Linked DNA regions of Homo sapiens: region 2 is linked to region 1. Evidence: fine-mapped expression QTL. A gene starts in region 1. The other region holds a variant in brackets. All regions are shown on one strand. Distances are between the middles of the regions. Region 1 holds the start of LINC01561 (long intergenic non-protein coding RNA 1561). Region 2 overlaps PLPP4 (phospholipid phosphatase 4).

What was found. PIP is the estimated chance that this variant, and not a neighbour inherited with it, causes the effect.
Region 2: its variant is fine-mapped to the expression of LINC01561 in cerebellum (GTEx, PIP above 0.99). The same link has a PIP of 0.9 or more in cerebellar hemisphere.

What each region holds. Positions count from the first base shown.
Region 1 is chr10:120,595,117-120,600,644 of GRCh38, reverse strand. It overlaps LINC01561 (long intergenic non-protein coding RNA 1561), which reads right to left and starts at 2,696. Exons shown (of 1, transcript NR_103717.1): 1 at 522-2,696.
Region 2 is chr10:120,572,666-120,577,665 of GRCh38, reverse strand. It overlaps PLPP4 (phospholipid phosphatase 4), which reads right to left. Exons shown (of 7, transcript NM_001030059.3): 6 at 2,365-2,535. Among named protein-coding and RNA genes, the nearest start is that of LINC01561, 23 kb to the left of the region's middle. RefSeq lists an enhancer at 2,040-2,539. The variant G/A (reference allele first, on the strand shown) is at 2,617.

The DNA.
Region 1 (5,528 bases):
TCAGTCTCCATCTCTGAGTGCCCTCCTGAGCCTTCACCTATGGCAGCTGCCTCCCCCTCTTCCCAGAGCCGGCCTCGGGCTGGCCTCAGGCTTCTGCAGCATCCTAGGGCTTCCCTCTGCCCCCATGGATCCCACATTCACTGGCCACCTGTGCACCTCGATGTCCACTAGGGCCCAGCACCTATGCTCCCACCTGCTCCCACCTCCCCACAAGGTTGGTGACCTGGAGGCTGGGAGGCCCATAGACAGGGTGCTCAGCTGCAGCCTAGAAAGCTCTCAGCTGGCTCTCCTGACCCCCAGCTTAGATCTTCAGCTTGGGCTGCTGCTCTCCCAGCTCCCACTTCTCCCCAAATCTCCATCCCCCTTGTGACTTTCCAGGTTCAAGCTTCCCGTTTACGTTCCCAGTTCCATTCTGCCTGCACATGCCTGTCCTTGGAACATGTTTCTGGAACAATAATCTAGTAATGAGATTCCAACAGACTACAAAACATGAAGAAGGAGACACAAGGAAGGAACAAGGCTCTTTTCTGTTTCTTAATGTTCATTTATTCAACAAATACTAATTGAGCCTCTATTGTGTGCCAGGTTCCATTCTAATGCTGGAGACACAGACAACACAAAACAGATGTCCCCTACTCAAGGGGCACATGGCACACAGGGAATAGATGCCTCATTACATCTGTTTAAGAAACAACATAGCCACTGCAGAGATTCACAGCAGGCTGAACACGTGTTTATCTCCACTCCTCTTGCATCCACTAAAATGATAGTAAAGTTGTAGACCACCCATAAGGACAAAGGAAATCGGAGACGGTAGAAGAGAGATTGATTTCAGCAATGTTTTGAAGATAAAAATCTAGATGGACAACAACTTCAGCCATCTTTCTCTGCTCTGACAAGGGCCTGCACGGGGAGCACGCAGCTTTGGGCTGCAGAAGTCCATCTGGAAAGGCTTGGAAACTGACCACCCCAGGCAGGAAGAACAACCAAATTCACTGCAGGCCAGAACTGTGTGTGGTATTAAATGCGCAGGCTCTGCAGAGAGATTGCAGGATTCAAATTCCGGTCGTCTGCTCACTGGCTGTGTGATATAGGTCAAGGTTCTAAACCTCTCTGTCCCTCTTTGTCCTCATCTGTACACAAGGGGCAGCAAAAGTGCCTTTCTCACAGTGCTGTTCTAAGTGCGCCTGAGAACCCGCTGCAAGCACTCGGTGTAGCCCCGGACACAGAGTGAGCACTCAGTAAGGGGCAGCTATTAGCATAGCTATTTCTTCTCTCTCAGCTCAGAGCGTCTCCCAGAGCAGCCAGTCCTCACACCCTGCCCCCAGAATGGAAGAACAGGTGGAAGCTAATACCATCACTGCACAGTATCGTTGGGAAGTTGTATGGCATCCCTTTGTTTGAGTTAATAAAGCTCTTTCCCTCCTTTAGATTAAAAAAAGAAAGAAATGGAATGAACAGCGCTCTGCCTGGCTTCTCCTCCACATCTCTGAGGCGGGTTTCCCCATAGACCTGCAAATCACTCAGCCTCATGCGACCATCATGCCAGGAGGGGCATGAGGTGGCAGCAGTCCAGCCTCTGCATGTCACTGCACAAAGTTGACTCCACAGAGGGGAGTGACACCCACAAGGCCACACGCTGGTGACTTTTGGGGATGGGAATGCAGAGCCCTGAGGCCTCACCTGCAGTCTCCCTGTCCCTCGACGTTGCTTCCCATGTGAAACTGGCCACAATTCAAGGAGACAGGCAGAGCAAAGGGGGTTTTATAACACGTGAGCCTCAGGCCCTATTTTGTCCCAAACCACACTTGTGTCTCCCACTCCTACCCCTCCCCCTCTTGTCACATGGCTCCTTGTCTCGTGGCACCAGGCTCTCCAGAACCCCAGTGTCGGAAGGTGTCCCTCTGAGCATGGAAGATTTTCCACCACGATGGAGCAGCCGGATTCTCAATGGCCAGAGGTGCAGGGAGAGCAGTCAGGCTTGTCCTGAGGAGCAGTGACAAGGCAGATGGCACCACCTTGTGAGAGAGGAGAGCAGCAGGATGCCCCAGTCACAGCGGCATGCAGGTGGCCCCAGCCAGATGGCTTTTCCCAAGTCCAGATTTTCAGGCTGATCTGGACACTCAAGATTCCCAGCTTCTGTGCTGAGGAGTCCTGGCCTGCTCCTGAGCTGGTGAGACCCCAGTTCCCCTGAGAGCCTGCTTCCCAGCTGCTGTCTGGTTTAGGGCCCACAGTTGACCCCTCTGGGAGTCTGTTTGGCAACTCAGAGGATGCTCTGAGCACCTGGGGGAAGAAAGTACTTGCTGGCCTCACCCCTGGGACTCTCCAGGCCATCTGTGCTTTCTCTGCTCCTCCTGGAATCTGAGGGGTTCTGGTCCCAGGAGCTCAGCCTGTCCTCCTGACATTGACACAGGAGACAGCAAAGCTACACCACAGATATACCACAATACAAGCTTCCGCAGAGCCAAAGAAGCAATGGCTCTGCTATTACATAGGCCTCGATGCTGTTGTCTTGCTCTCACAAGCTGTGTGACCTTGGGGAGGTGGCTTGCCTTCTCTGATCCCCAGTTCATCTGTAAAGTGGTGGAAATTGGATGAACGAACCCATTGCACAGAATATCCAGTGCTACTCAAAATCCTGGCACTGAGTTCTTAGGAAGAAGCCTCTGGACAAGGAAGGCCAGGGAGTGTAGAATTCATCTATCAAATATTTTAAACAAAATGGTCAGCATGTGAGAGAGGCTCAAGACACGACTCTTCTGGGAAATGCATTCATGTAGAACAGCCCGTGCCTCACAACACAGTGACAGCTCACATTGACCAATCACAAGAGCTAACATTTATTGAGCACTTACCGTGTACCAAGCCCTGTACTAAGCACTTTCTATACATGCTTTCTTCATTTAATCCTCACAAAAAAACCCATCTTACACATGAGGACACTGAATCTTTGAAAGGTTCGTAATTTGCTCAAGAAAGTATCTGAGCTGGATTTGATCCCAAGCATGGCTGAGTTTGCTCTTGTCCATTATGAGGGTGGAAAATCACTCTATTTTGATGATATTCATCAGATCAACCCCAAAAGGCAGCCCCTGCTTTGCCTTGGGGGTTCACCCTCAAGTTATCAGCAGTGAGTGTGACTTCAAAGATCATTCTTTTCTATTTGTTTTTAGAGACAGGGTCCCTCTCTGTCGCCTAGGGCTCAAGTGTGGTGACATGATCATAGCTCACTGCAGCCTCAAGCTTCTGATCTCAAGTGATCCTCAGAGGTAGCTGGGATTACAGGTGTGCACCACCATGCTCAGCTATTTTTTTTTTAAATTTGTTGTAGAGATGGGGCCTCACTATGTTGTCCAGGCTGGTCTTGAACTCCTGGCCTCAAGTGATCCTCGTGCCTCCACCTCCTAAAGTGCTAGGATTACAATGTGAACCACTGTGCCAGGAAGGGATCTTTCTAGAGCTCCAGGGTGTAGATATGGGGCTGACTGGGAGTCCAGGATAACCAGCTGAAGATTGGAATGTTCTGCAAAGTCTGCTTCAGTCAATGGCAAGTCCAAGTGAAACACAGTTTATATGATCCAGGGAGAGCTATATAAACTACCCACCTTTAGACAATCTCTATTGTGTGTGTGTCTGCATGTGTGTACACACATGTGTGCACATGCGTGCAAGGAGGTATCTGACTCCTCTTTTTAAGGAAGGCTGGGTCCATCATTTCCTGAAACTCCCCTTTCACTGAAGCTCTCTTTGCATACACACTATCCTTGCTGGCTCCTGGAATACAGGTATGAGCACTTTTTGTGCAATTGGTTTCCATGTGAACGAAAACATTCTGCAATCCCTAAGAGGCTCACAAGCCTCTGGGTCTTTTCATGGGTTTTTCTAATTTCACACTTTTCTCCAATAATTCAAGTATCCATCAGCTTAGCTCACCCCCTTCCTTGGATAGATGCAGGTTCTCCCTGCCCCTCTCCTGCTCCCCTTCTTTCAGGAGGCCTCCTAAGGAGTGAGCCCTGGTGTATGGAGGCTTCTCACTCCTTAGCACCCCTAAAGCTGCTTGTCTTGTCCTGGCTTTGGCTCAGATGGGCCTTTTTCTCCCAAATAGCTGGTGCCTGGAGCAACATCTGACTTAGGTTGAATACCCCTCAGACATATTAATGTTTCTAAAAATCAACATAGTGAATTTTGCTGTATTATTAATTCAACCTTCTTATAGGGGGAATCTGGTTCCCTAAGAGGATAAATTGTATCATTACCTACTGGTGGCAGCAGCGATTAGAGGGATTATAATTCAATTAGGGTTTTAATACCTGATTACCATAACAGTGTTGCCAGTGAAATTCTCCTGCTTGTATCAGAATTGCTATTTACTCTTCAGAGATGCTACAGACTGAGTGTTTATGTCTCCTCCCAAATTCATATGTCAAAATCCCAACTTCCAATGTTATGGTATTAAGAGGTGGGGGCCTTTGGGAGGGCATTAGGTCATAAGGGTAGGACTCTAATTAATGGGATTAGTATTCGTATATGAGGGACCCCAAAGAGTTCCCTTGCCCCTGCCACCATGTGAGGACACAGTAAAAAGACAGGGGTCTATGAACCCTGAAGCACACCCTCACCAGACACTAAATCAGCAGGTGCCTTGGTTTTGGACTTCCCAGTCTCCAGAAATGTAAGAAATAAGTTTTTGTTGTTTATAAGCCACCAGTCTATGATAGTCTATTGTAGCAGCCTGAACAGACTAAGACAAGAGAGTTTTAGTGCCAGGTGCTTACTTTATTCATGTCTCAGATACCCCAGGAGCTCTGCAATAATCACAACTATCATGGTCTGATATCTTATTATGTTGTCGCAAAGGTACTTGCTGTTTTGATCATTACTTTTAATGGCAAAACTACAATTACTTTTGCACCAACCTAATACATTCTAAATCACTAAACCATTGTAAAAGGTCCTATAAGGTTGGTGTTATTCCTGTTTTGCAGATGCAGACACTGAGGCTCACGAGTGTGAAGCAGTTTGCTCAAGGTTAAGTGGCAGAGATGTTGGCAGGGCTGCCTGGCCCCATTCTAAGTGGTTCTTTCCTCCGTGCTATCCTTGAAGAGCACTCTGTATGTGGATGAAAGCAGGTGTTTAGCATCACAGTGTATGATGTCCCCAGGGCATCTGTGACTGTGTTCTATGTCAGTCTGGGGATCTTTCCAGGGCAAAAAAAGAAGAGACACCACATAGCAAGAAGAGACGCCACCCATCACACAGCATATTTTGTGTTAAGATGTTACTCTCATTGTCTGTCACTGAGAGCATTATTATTCCTGATCATTTACAGAATCCACTGGCAAGCAGTCATGGCAGCACCACTGCAAGCACTGGGATGAAAAGATGTCATCAAAGAATAAAAAGGGGCACCGGGTGCAGTGGCTCACGCCTGTAATCCTAGCACTTTGGGAGGATCACAAGGTCAGGAGATTGAGATCATCCTGGCTAACACGGTGAAACCCCGTCTCTACCAAAAATACAAAAAAATT
Region 2 (5,000 bases), 23 kb after region 1:
GTTTGATTCCCAAATATGGTTCTAACCATCACTGAACATAAATTCTCTTGCTTTGCTTTCCCAACAGCCCACACAGGATGAATATTCTCCCTTGACTGCTCATAGTTCCTTTCTGTGCCTGTTGGATAGTACGGTTTCAAAGCCCCAGTTGCCAACAGGCCTTGGGTACACCAGCTGCAGCATAAATTCACCATTCCCTAAAGACAAGAGCTGTGATTCCACATTCCTTTACTCTGGCCATGTTACACTACCACAGCTAGGAAATGAGGAACAAAACAGGGTAGGGCCAGAGAGTGCTGAAGACAGGCCAGCCTCACATCCTAGGTTGTTAGTACTATGCAAAGGCTCTTATTGACTCCAAGATAAAGGAAAAATTGATTCAATTCTGAAACCCCCAATCATTCCCCGAATCCAAAGTGGTTGAATAAAAGTGAAAACCTGGCATTCATAGCTTACAAATAAATCATGTTCCAAAAAAAAAGTCTGTCTCCAAGTCAGTTGTTTGGGAAACACAATGCATCCTTCCTTAGAAAAAATGTACTAAGCAACAATGATACCACTTTGCATGTGTGTAGTAAATTTCCATTTACAAAGAACATTTGGATCCATTATTTCATTCAATCTATGAAAAGCTCTGTGAAATATTAGGGATAGTTCCTGTGCTCAAAGAGGAAACTGGCTCACAAGGGATCAATGAGAAGCAGTCCATAAAAGGCCATTTGGCCCGTAATATTCTTCATGGGGAAATGCCCTAACTCACATAGGTGGGAAACAATTCTGCGGGAACATATTCCCAGTTCCAATGGGGGGCTGTGCCTCTGTTTTTGTTGGCCCAGTGACTCTGTCCATCCTTCCATCTCATGATGCGGCTTCTTATCATCCAGAATTTCATCCAAGTCATTGATAAAAACAGAACAAGGGCAGGTTCAGACCTGTGACCCTCTTCTGACCTCCCCCATCAGGAGGGCCTCAGACCTTAGTAGCACTTGATGCTTGCTGCATCCACCTGTCCAAACCATGTCAGCATCTCTTTCCCTATACCCTTCATCCTCCAGCCCAAAGCTCCTGCTGGGGTCACAGGACACCCAGAGCATGAGCTCCAGGAGGATACGGGGTAGGGATGAGACCAGGAAGGAACAGGAGAAGCTGTGTAGTGCTAGAAGGAGCACAAGGTCTCCAGAGAAGATGAGGAAGGAGGGGCTCTCAGCTAGGAGTTCCCCTCAACCCTGTCCCCATCCATTGCCTCATTACCACTGCAACAAACCCCCGGAAAAGGTAGGAAGAGGGCAGTCCTGCAAGGCAGCTGGCTGCAAAGACAGAGAGAGGAAGGAGGTGAACAATGCCCAGCAACAGTCGGAAAACAAGAAAGGGAGAGGAGGTTTGGGTCACAGACCTATCATGGAAGCCCATTCATTCAAAGAAGCTGGATTCAGGCACACTTTCTTTCCTTTGTTTGGTTAAAATTGACACATATGGTGGAGCTCTTTACCAGTGTTTCTTAGACTTCATCAGCAATGACAGGCTTGCTTATTATCCAGGAAGATTCTAGGCCACTGCTCCAGATGCACCCCTAGAGAGTCCAATTTCTAGCTCAGGGCAGCTTGATCAAGGTGATCCAAGGATTGCCCTTGGGAAACCCTTCCCTAGACCCCATGCTTCCTGGAGGCCACACCTCCCATGGACATCACCTCCGTCTCAGCTCTCTGTGTGCTCTGGCAGGTGGTGGTTGTCTTTCAGACAGACTGTGAGCTGCAGTTTGTCTGCAGAAGGACATGGCATGGTTTAGTTATATTTCAGGAACAAGCCCCTCCCTTGTTTTGTGTTATTTTGATTTTTAACAAATACCCCAGGACTGATATATGTATATATATAGGCAAACCTCACCCCAGGCTTGCAGCTGCTGCTTGGAGCATTACTGGAATGAATCCCTGGCTAGATATACCTTTCGGAAGAGCATCCATGGTGACAAATACGTCCTTGTAGGCTGGATTTGATAAGCAAAGGAAGCCAAAAACCACTTGGCACCAACTCTGAGGACTGAGGCAAGTGATCCAGCAGGAAAATCACATTTGGGTCTCAGGCCAAGGGTGACACTAAACCAAAGGGCCTGACATTCTGGCAGGACTCAAGCAGTCTCCTGGAGCATGAAGGAGGAAGAAGAGCTCCAATTCTTTCCCCAGGAAGGCCAGACCTCACTTGAACCAGCATATTTGCTTCAAAATTTTATCCGCTCTGTCATTTCAGCCTCCTCTGGTTTTGGACAATGGGCACTTAGCTCCCCACAATTGGTGCATTTCTACACCCATCCCTGGAGGAGAGGGGCAACCACAGTGAGGACTAGTCAGGCCCTGGGCAGGGACTCACCTTGCCAGTGATGCTTGTAGTCGCACATGCGGGACAGGGCAATCATCATGGCGCAGTACAAGGGCAGGATGGCAGCACAGAGCCGCCAGCTCTTTCCCCGCCCACTCTCGGTGAAGCAGTGCAGCTTGCCCGCCAAGTAGAACGTCGTGAAGCCAAGGCCCGAAAAGGCAACTGCCAAACAGAAACAGCAGGTGTTACTCTAGCAGGTGGTGAGTGGCAGGGACTCAGTGCGTGCTGGGCATTCCGTCTGCC[G/A]TCTTGCACACCCCCAAGGCCAAGGCCATGTTGGCACCAGGCACTATCTAGGCAATCTGTGCTCCTGCTAGCACCATGCTGCTATGAAACTTTCAACCATAAGAATAATCTTCCAGGGTTATATGTGATCAAAACCTATTTTATTTCATCCATTCATTCAATAGTTACTTCAGGAGTCTCCACTCTGTGCTAGACAGGCACTGCACTAGATGTGGGGAATAAAAAGATGCATCAGATACTATCTCTGGAGTCAAGAGGCTCATGGTCTAGTTGAAGGACATACCATGCTAAGAGATAATTTTAATATAATGTGATACATTCTATAAGAAACAAGTACATACAGAGCAAAGGACTGTGAGAACTGCTTAGATCTGAAGGGCATGGGAAAGTAAAGGGGCTAGGATCAGCCCCAGGTTTTTGGCTTGGGAGACTGAGTGTACAATGGTGGCATTCAGTAAGATGGGACCAGCAAATGCTACAAAAGAGTGAGTTTGATGGAGAAGTCAGCGATGACAAATACCTTGTTTTCTGTCCGAAATAATGGTTATTGTTTTTTCTGAATTGCAAAGACAACTCATGGCTGTGCTAAATCCATTGTCGAAAGTGTAGAGGTCTGAGTGTAGCATGTATAAGCCCCAAGCTTTACATCCAAGCAGGTATAAAACATAGTTGGGAGCTCAGTGAGATTTAAGTTGGGAAGCGCTTACAACAATGGTCCTCAACCCTGGCTATACAGAGTCACCTCTAATACCTGGGAAGCTTTAAAAAATACTGATACCCAGGTTCCATTGCCAGCCATTCTGTTTGTAGTGGTCTGGAGGGAGCTGAGAGAGAGAGAGAGAGAGAGAGAGAGAGAGAGAGAGAGAGAGAGAGAGAGAGAGTGTGTGTGTGTGTGTGTGTGTGTGTGTGTGTGTGTGTGTACTCCCCAGATGATTCTAATGGTGGCCACAACTAAGCTTAGAGGCTTTTATTGAAGGCAGGTGTTACAGCTCCCCATCCCTCTGGACACCAGTCTAATCCAAACTTTCTTCTTGATTAGAAAGTACTTCTGAGGGGATGGAGCTCCTAGGTAACCAGCCCACACAGTGACTTGGCAAAACGAGTATTATAAATACTCTCAATGCCAATACACCAGCAACTTTAAGAGACTGCCCAAAGCCCTGAGCCACGGTCTGGGCATCATGCAGGCATTTGTGACAAATGCAGATCCTCAGGTCCAACCCACACCTGCTGAGTTAGAATCTGTATTTCACAACATCCACCAGCGATCTGTGCACACACTGCACTTGGAGAAGCCTTGGCCTAAAATACATTCATTGTCTTTATAAGAGACCTTGGAAAGTCCATCTTAAGAAAATAATATAAAATGTAAGGGAAATCTAGAAGATTTTCTGCTCAAAGTTATTGATAAATATTGAAAAACTGAAAATGATCAGTACAGAAGAATAGATAACCAAGCTGTGACATTTCCTTGTAATGGACTATGATGCAACCATGAAAACCACATGATTATGTAACAATATAGACAATACTTAGGATGCATGCTAAGTGAAACAAGTAGGACCCTAAACTGTAAGTTCAAGATAATCATTACTATAGTACCAAACAGTGAACAACCTGCAGCTTTTCCAAATTATCTCTGATAAGAATGTGCCTTCTTAAAAGCGATCTCGGTTACAAACACAAGATTATACCAAAGTAGAACTTTTTTCAGCAACCAAATTAAACAAAGTTACAGTGGTTTAAAAAAAAATTTTAATGGAATATTAAACCAGGTTTATCGTAGGTATAAAGATGCAGCAAAAGAAAGTAAATCTAAATGTGAGTGGTGTGTGCATTGAAACACTTCTGCGTAATGATTAGCACCCTCCCCCTCCTCACAGTGTGTAAAATGCTTGTTTTCTTTGAGAAGAGAGTAGCAAGTTCTATGGCTAGAGTCAGAAAACATGTCTTGGACAGCCTTCCTGGTTTTTTGTTGTTGTTTTTTCTCCTCCCCGTTGAACTTGAACCTGAGCCTTGATGATTTAGAGTCCTAGGATTTCAGAGTTAGGTCTGATGAATAACATCAGAGCCGTGCCAATAGATATTAAGTATTCTGCTTAAAGTAAAAATATGTGAGAAGAAACTGCATGGCCCAGCCCTGCTCTAGATACTGTGGTGGGAGGTTATTAAGTGGTTTACATGATGTTCCAAAGTGGCCCTATCTGGCCACCAACGTAGCAAGCACAACGACTTCTTAAATTCTATCCTCATCCCCTTTGCTCTGTTCCTTCTATTCATTTACATTCTTCCTTGAGGTATTCCAGTGGGAGAGGAGGCTGGAGAGTTGGATCCCATTGGTATTGATCCCATCCTGAGCTCCTTCAGGAGGAATAATGGACTTT